2 linked regions of the Homo sapiens genome follow. The protein of the gene in region 1 purifies or fractionates together with the protein of each later gene. This does not show direct contact. Each region holds a gene or a part of one and is shown in the gene's direction. Other genes may lie near its edges.

Evidence for each region.
Region 2: the proteins of DZANK1 (region 1) and CORO2A purify together in Homo sapiens (affinity purification with mass spectrometry; one large-scale study listed by BioGRID and IntAct). This does not show direct contact.

What each region holds. Positions count from the first base shown.
Region 1 is NC_000020.11:18,453,254-18,457,070, reverse strand, and holds part of DZANK1 (double zinc ribbon and ankyrin repeat-containing protein 1), read left to right. Parts: intron 1-1,709; coding exon 1,710-1,824; intron 1,825-3,243; coding exon 3,244-3,340; intron 3,341-3,817. UniProt on the Homo sapiens protein: Involved in vesicle transport in photoreceptor cells.
Region 2 is NC_000009.12:98,126,638-98,130,454, reverse strand, and holds part of CORO2A (coronin-2A), read left to right. Parts: intron 1-564; coding exon 565-661; intron 662-1,735; coding exon 1,736-1,848; intron 1,849-2,194; coding exon 2,195-2,285; intron 2,286-3,631; coding exon 3,632-3,817.

The sequences.
Region 1 (3,817 bases):
GCTGACAATATGAAGTGTCAGCAAGTATGTGGAGAAGCTGGACCCCTCAGCTACTGCTGGTGGGAATGTAAAATGGAACAGCCACAGTTTGGCAGTTTCTGAAAATTAAACACATACCTGCCATATGACCCAACAATTCCACTCCTCAGTATCTATTGAAGAGAAATGAAAACGTGTCCACATAAAGACTTATACATGAATGTTCATAGCAGCATTATACATAATAGCCCAAACCCAGAAATAATCCAAATGACCATCAGCTGGGGAATGGACATAAAAATTGTGGTATATCCATAAAATGGAATACTACTCAACAATAACAATGAACGAGTTACAACAACATAGATGAGTCTCCAAAAAAAAACAAATAAATAAAAAATCCAGACACGTAAGATGACCACATATGTATAATTACATTTATGTTAAATTTCTAGAAAAGACAAAACTATAGAGATAGGAAACAGATCAGTGGTTGCCTAGGAGGTTGGATAGGAGTGACTGCACACAGGCACAAGGGAATTCTTTTGGGTGATGGAAATGTCCTAAATATTTCCACTGTGGTGATACTCACAAAATTGTGTACATTACATTGACTGAATTCCGTTGAACCAGAAACTTAAAATAGATGAATTTTATGTCATGTAAATTATACCTCAATAAAGCTGTTAAAAAATAGAGTATAGGTGAGCTACTGGTAGTGAAATAACATCACCACTAGTTTTTAGTCATGGGCACGGCTACATTGTCTTCTTATGAAGCTCTTACTGCATCAGAGAACAAGATGAATTGTGAAATATTATGAATGAATGGAAAACATGATAGTATTTGAGTTACAGAATCTACCAGAGCAGCATATATTACACTGTCTACAGCTGAGACAGGGAAAATGCTCTTGATTCATGTGGAATGACCTAGGCAACACATTTTTTGTTTTAGAATAGTTTGAGGCTTATGGTCTGATATCTTTATGATGAATGTGGTAGATAGTCTTCAAAAATGGCCCCCAATGAACTATGCCTCCCAGAATTTATGCCCTTTTGTAACCTTTCTGCTGGTGTTGTGACTTGCTTTTGACCAATAGAATGTTTCAGAAATGATGCCAAGGGCTTCTGAGATCACAAGAAGTATTGTAGTTTCTGCTTTGGTTTCTTGGGACAAAAACACTGGCAGGGGATTGGGGTAGTCAGGTACTATGGAGGAAGTCTGACTACCTGAGGCTTCCATACTGTGAGGAAGCCCAAGCTAACCACATGAGAGAGAGAGGGAGGGACAGAGGGATGGAGATTGAGTGAGAGTGATGAGTGGCGAGCCCCTAGCTGTTCCAGTTACCCCAGCCCAGGCTTTGCATATTTGAGAGAAGTCATTTTGAACATCCAGCCCAGTTGAGCCTTCAGTTGACTCCAGCCCTTGCTGATGTTTGATGGCAGCCACATGGAAGAGCTCAAATGAGACCTACCCAGTGGGGACCGTGAATCCACAGATTCATGTTTTAAGGCACTACCTTTGGGGTGGTTTGTTACATAGCAGTAAATAGCCCAAAAGGAAGGAGGTCAGGAAAGACTATAGAAATTACATTTGATTTCTTCAATTTGAAATACAATAAATTTAGTAGCTAGACTAAGGCACTTTAATAAAATCATCTTGTTAGCCACTTTTTAAAAAATCTTTGTGTAACACAGACTTTTTCCTTTCTTAATAATAATTTTCAGAGACTGCAGACAGAGTGGCATTGTGACAAAGGTGTTTCACGTAGACTATGAACCACCAAATATAGTCTCTCCTGAAGACAATGTTGAAAATGTTCTCAAAGATTCTTCAAGGCAGGCAAGTAATGAAACTATAATCCATTCAGATTGTCACTGTATTTTGGTTCCTTCTTTCTCAGTGAGCAGATCTTGCCTTTTATTACCTTACCTCTGCTCACAGTCAGGTCCTTATAACTGAAGTCATTATCAACCATTGCAAAGCATCTTTACTGATTTCTCAGCCTTTTGTCAGTCTCCTATCCACCCTGAAGATGAGAGTTCCTGCTGAGCATTGGGGTCCATGCTCCAGTGTCTTCAGTGGCTCTCTCTTACCTACTGAAAAAACCAGAAACCTTTAGCCTTCCATCCAAGTCATCAGTTTCTGCCCTTGGTCAGCTTTTCCTGGTCTGTCAACCCCCTACATATACTCCAACCAAACTGGAGTGTGTTTGCTATGCCCTATCACTGCTATCCTGGCACCCAGGCCTTCTTTTATAAACTGCTTTGAGCATGTGATTACTTTGTTCCTTGTTTATCTTGCCTATGCATTATAAGCTCCAAGGTGGCATGGTTGCCATACTCATTGCCTTGCACAGGAGCAGGCAGGAGAGGGTGGTGAGTGTGTATTTGCTGAATAGATGCATTAAGTAGAAGTCCTCAGTGGGCATAGAATTCTTTTATGTTGAAATCTTTATTCCCAAATATCTGCAAAGCCTCCCCACTGTGAAGAGTCAATTAGATCCATCTGAGAAGGATGTGTGACGCTTCAGGCACTGGGTGTGAGCATCGATAAGAAAGATTCAAGGAGTTAGGCCAGAGGATGGGCTAGCCTACAGTAAGGCGGCCAACCCAGAGGTCTTGGTCACAGGGATGTTGTTGGGATTGACAGAGGAAGTTTATAGGGGTTTCACTTAAGCTTGACCATGAACCTGATGCTAGAGAGGAGGTTGGTAGATGCAGGCATGGGTGGGACTCAAGTGTGATCAAGGCAAGGATCTACACTGGGCAGGGGCCGCCTTCGGGGGCTAAGCCAACATATGTCAGCAAGTGCTTAGGCTTGAATCAGGTGTGAGGGACCAAGTCCATGGAGAAAGTCCAGAGAGAAGAGTGTTTAAGGACTGTGTGTGGGCAGGTGGTGTGCAGAAGTCTGATTTTGGTCTGACTCTACCCTGCCTTTGCCCTCTGGACTTGGTGGTCCCTCTGTTGTTACCCAGACTCCCACAGTTGTAACATCCTGCCTGCATGTGCTGCTCCCTGCCTCCTGCCTTGGCCACTTCACCTGGTGAGGGCTACATCCAGATGTGCTGCCAGCTGAGCAGCCCAGTCCAGATACAAAGCTGCATGTTTCCAGAATAAAGTGAAACAGGGGTCACTTTGTACAAATGACCATAAACTCTTTCAAATAAGAAATGCACACCATGACACTTTCTCTATCATGCAGCTTTAATTCTCACATGGGAATAACCAAGTGATTGATATGCAATCTCTTCATTCCTAGGAATTCAAAAATGGATTTGTTGGATCAAAACTAAAGAAAAAATATAAGAACTCTGAAAATCAACGCAGCTGGAATGTTAACCTTAGAAAGTTTCCAGGTATGATGTGACAGAACAAAGACAAGGTTTTGTATTCTGAACCCACCGAAGAGGTTCATGGCATGTTCGTTGCATGTTTTCTTGTCTGGAGAAGTGTTGGAATAAGAAACACTGGGGCAGGAAAGTATGCTGTACTTTGAATTTTAATGACGTCCTTGCTTACAGCTTAAGATCATGAAGGAGGATCAAGCAGTCCAACCAAGTTAGATTTCTTGACCCACTGCCGGGAGCCATGGGGGCATCTAACCAAACAGAGGAAATGCTGGAGTTGTAGGGTTTGGGGGAAGGGTGGAGTTTGGGTGAAATATAAATGAAAGCAGAGTTTTGATAGTCTCAAAGCGAAGCTGGTCTGGGTGTGAAGGGATCAGCATCAGGTATGGACCCAGGGTATCAGCATCAGGAAGGGGACCCAGGGTTCTGTTGCCTTGGAAACTACAAAGATACATGGGGAACACTGTGTTCAGAAATGATTATCTC
Region 2 (3,817 bases), on another chromosome or scaffold:
GTCTTAGAGGAAAAAGGGTGGGCTTTGGGTCATGGTGGGGGAGGATTGAATATTAAAATAAGGGCCCAGGCCCAGCACAGTGGCTCATGCCTATAATTCCAGCACTTTGGGAGGCCAAGGTGGGAGAATCACTTGAGCCCAGGAGTTCAAGGCCAGCCTGGGCAGCATAGTGAGACCCCATGTCTACGAAAATGAAAAAATAAAAAATTAGCCAGGCGTGGTGGCACACACCTGTGGTCCCACCTACTCGGGAGGCTGAGGCGGGAAGATGGCTTGAGACCAGGAGGTTGCAATGAGCTGTGATTGCACTACTGCTCTCCAGCCTGGGCAATAAAGTGAGACCCTGTCTCAAAAAAATAAGATAAAATCTAAAATAAAATGAATATCCCCTCATCACCCTCCTGCCTTGATGACAGGGCCCCCAGTTTCCTGGTGTTCCCTTGAGTGAGATGGGTTTGCCGATCATCAAAAAAAGCCAGGTCTTTGCTGCATGGCTGGGTTGCTGATGAGCTGATGAGCTCCAGCTCTGAATCTCACCCTCCTCTTCCTTCTCCTCCTCCTCAGGGAGATGGCAACATCCGCTACTACGAGGTGAGCGCCGACAAGCCTCACCTGAGCTACCTGACTGAGTACCGCTCCTATAACCCACAGAAGGGGATCGGTAAGTGAGGGACACTGAAGTTCATGCCTGTAATCCCAGCACTTCGGGAGGCCGAGGTGGGAGAATCAGGGTCAGGGCTTCAGTGCGGGGTCTGGGGAGACAGGGATGAGTCAGATGGGAGGAGAGACAGCATAGCAACACTCTGACTTGGTGGGGGCTGTACTTGACGTGTGCAACAGCACAAAGGAGGAAGTCAGGGAAGGCTTCTCAGAGGAGGCAACATTGGAGGAACTGAAAGAGGAAGCAGAGCCCAGCAGGGGAGAGAGGGATGTGTTCTAGGTCAAGGTTAAGCAGTTACCACAAGAGCAGAGATGGAAAGGGCTGACCTAGAAGAGCCTCTAGGAAGCAGTCCTCAGTTCCTTTCTAAGTGTGCTTGAGGATTAAAAACACAGCTATATTTCTGTAATCTACAAGAAACCCACTTTAAACATAAAGACATGGCTAGATTAAAAGTAAGGGACTGGAGAAAGATGCACCCTGCTAACCCTACTCAAAAGGAATCTGGAGCGGTTTGATTAAGAGCATTTGGGTCACAGGAGCTGTGGGGATGGAGATGGGGAACCTTAAGCAGAGCAAACTGCCTATAAAAGTTCAGCTAATCCAGCACTTTGGGAGGCCAAAGCTGGAGGATCACTTGAGCCTAGGAATTCGAGCCTAGCCTGGGCAACAAAGTGAGACTCCTGTCTCTACAAATAAATAAAAAAATTGAGGTGCATACCTGTGGTCCCAGCTACTTGGGACGCTAAGGCAGGAGGATCGCTTGAGCCCAGGAGTGTGAGACTGCGGTGAGCTATGATTGTGCCACTGCACTCCAGCCTGGGCAACAGAGTGAGACCTTGTGTCAAAAAGAAAAAAATTCAGCTAAAATAATTTAAATCTTTGAAGGTGAAGAGTCTGATTAATTCAACTCCATTTCCCAACATAGGGCCCAGCCCAGTGTCGGTATTTGTCCCTGAGCTGTTTTCTGGGAGGAGACTGGTCTCTGTTCAGGTCCAGGTGTGCAGCCTGGCTTTGGCCCTAACACTGTGGCCCCAGCCTAGCCAGAACCTCTTGGCCCTCCCTGTCTGCCTTCAGGTGTCATGCCAAAGAGAGGACTCGACGTGTCCTCCTGCGAGATCTTCCGCTTCTACAAGCTGATCACAACCAAAAGCCTCATCGAGCCCATCTCCATGATTGTGCCCCGGCGGGTAAGGGCAGTCGGGACCGCATGGGAGGCAGGTGGGGAACCTGTCCTGGAGAAGACAGACCCAGGGCTGTCGGGCACCAGAGCCTGGAGCCCACGTTCATGGGGCAGCCACAGAGCGGCCTTTCTCACAGCCAGTGTGACATCAGTGGGCGTCAGGAGTCCTGGGTCTCGGTCCACCTCTGTTCTTGAGCTGCTGCGTGACCTCGGGCAAGTCCCTTTGTTCTCTGGGCCTCAGTTTCCTCAATTCAGCAGGGGTTGGTGAGAGCCTGGACTCCCAGGTCTAAGGGCCTTTCCCATCTGAGCAGCCTACCCTACCACCCTCCTCACTGTCTGGATTTCTCCTGCAGTCAGAATCCTACCAAGAGGACATATACCCTCCAACAGCAGGGGCCCAGCCCTCCCTGACGGCCCAGGAGTGGCTCAGCGGGATGAATCGAGGTGAGGAAGGCAGAGAAGAGGCCCAGGCAAATGTGACAGGAACATGGCGTGCCCAGTGGCCCCAAGCAATTGAGAGGGGTTGGGCCTGGATTTTTCTTCTCTCATGACCTCAGAAGCCATGCCCTTGACCTTCAGTCCCCAGTGGGTAGCATGGTCACATACAGGTCCAGAAAGTCAGGGGGCTTGACCCAAGAGCTCAGAAAACTCCAACTCAAGGGACTTTGCCCCACGGAAAGCTTCTTTACACTCTGGGGCTATGTGGGGTGCCTGGACCACCTCAGCCAGACTCCCTGTCCCTGTTCCCCACCCCTACCTCTGCAATTCTTTTTTTTTTTTTTTTTTTTTTTTTTTTGAGACAGAGTCTCGCTTTGTTGCCCAGGCTGGAGTGCAGTGGTACAATCTCAGCTCACTGCAACCTCCACCCCACCCCCAGGTTCAAGTGATTCTCATGCCTCAGCCTCCTGAGTAGCTGGGACTACAGGCACGTGCCACCATGCCCAGCTAATTTTTCGTATTTTTAGTAGAGATGGGGGTTTTGCCATGTTGGCCAGGCTGGTCTCAAACTCTTGACCTCAAGTGATCCACCTGCCTCGGCCTCCCGAAGTGCTGGGATTACAGGTGCGAGCCACTGGGCCTGGCCTTTTGCAATTCTTCTTGACCCAAGAAGCCCTCCAGGCAGCAACCCCCACCCAGGTCCCTCTGCCCACTCTGCCTGTCCTGAGCCACTCTCCCGCTCCTGCCAACACGGGGGCCAGCCCAGCAGAAGCAGTCACCCCAGCTGCTCCCTCTCCCTTCCACCCCCACAAACTTCCTTCACCCCCACCCCAGTGGCTGAGCGGGCCTCCTGGTGTACTGGAAGAGCCTCTGCCTTGGGGGGCAGCGGACCAGGGCCGAGTCCTAGTTTTGGATAACCTTAAGTAGGTTTTGCTCCCTGGGCCTCAGTTTCCTCATCTGTAGCCATGATGCCAGCCTCCCCTGCTTTCTGGAGGTGGTGAGAGAACTAATGAACTTGGTAGATGGTGGGGTGCAGTGTGGGTGGGACTGTCCTTACAAAGCAAGGGCAAGGTCTCATGTGAGTTTGAAGTGTTTGGGGGCTGCTTCAGTGCACGCACCGTGCTGTTCCTACAAACCAAGCTTCACTCTGAGGGTGGCACACGTGGGTATTTGTATCTGTTAGCCCTGCTCTGTGGGTTTGGGCCTGTCCACAGGTAGCTGTATTTCCCACACATGTTGCATGGGTCTGCATGGCTCTGAGTGTCTCTGCATGCCTGCCTGTGTCATTGGTGCCCCATATGCCCATCTTCCCGTGGGCACCCCGTCCTCACATGGCTCTGCTTCCCTTCCAGACCCAATCCTGGTGTCCCTTAGGCCTGGCTCTGAGCTGCTGAGACCCCACCCACTGCCTGCAGAGAGACCTATCTTCAATTCCATGGCCCCAGCCTCACCCCGGCTCTTGAATCAGACAGAAAAGCTGGCTGCAGAAGATGGCTGGAGGTCTTCCTCCCTGTTGGAGGAGAAGATGCCAAGGTGGG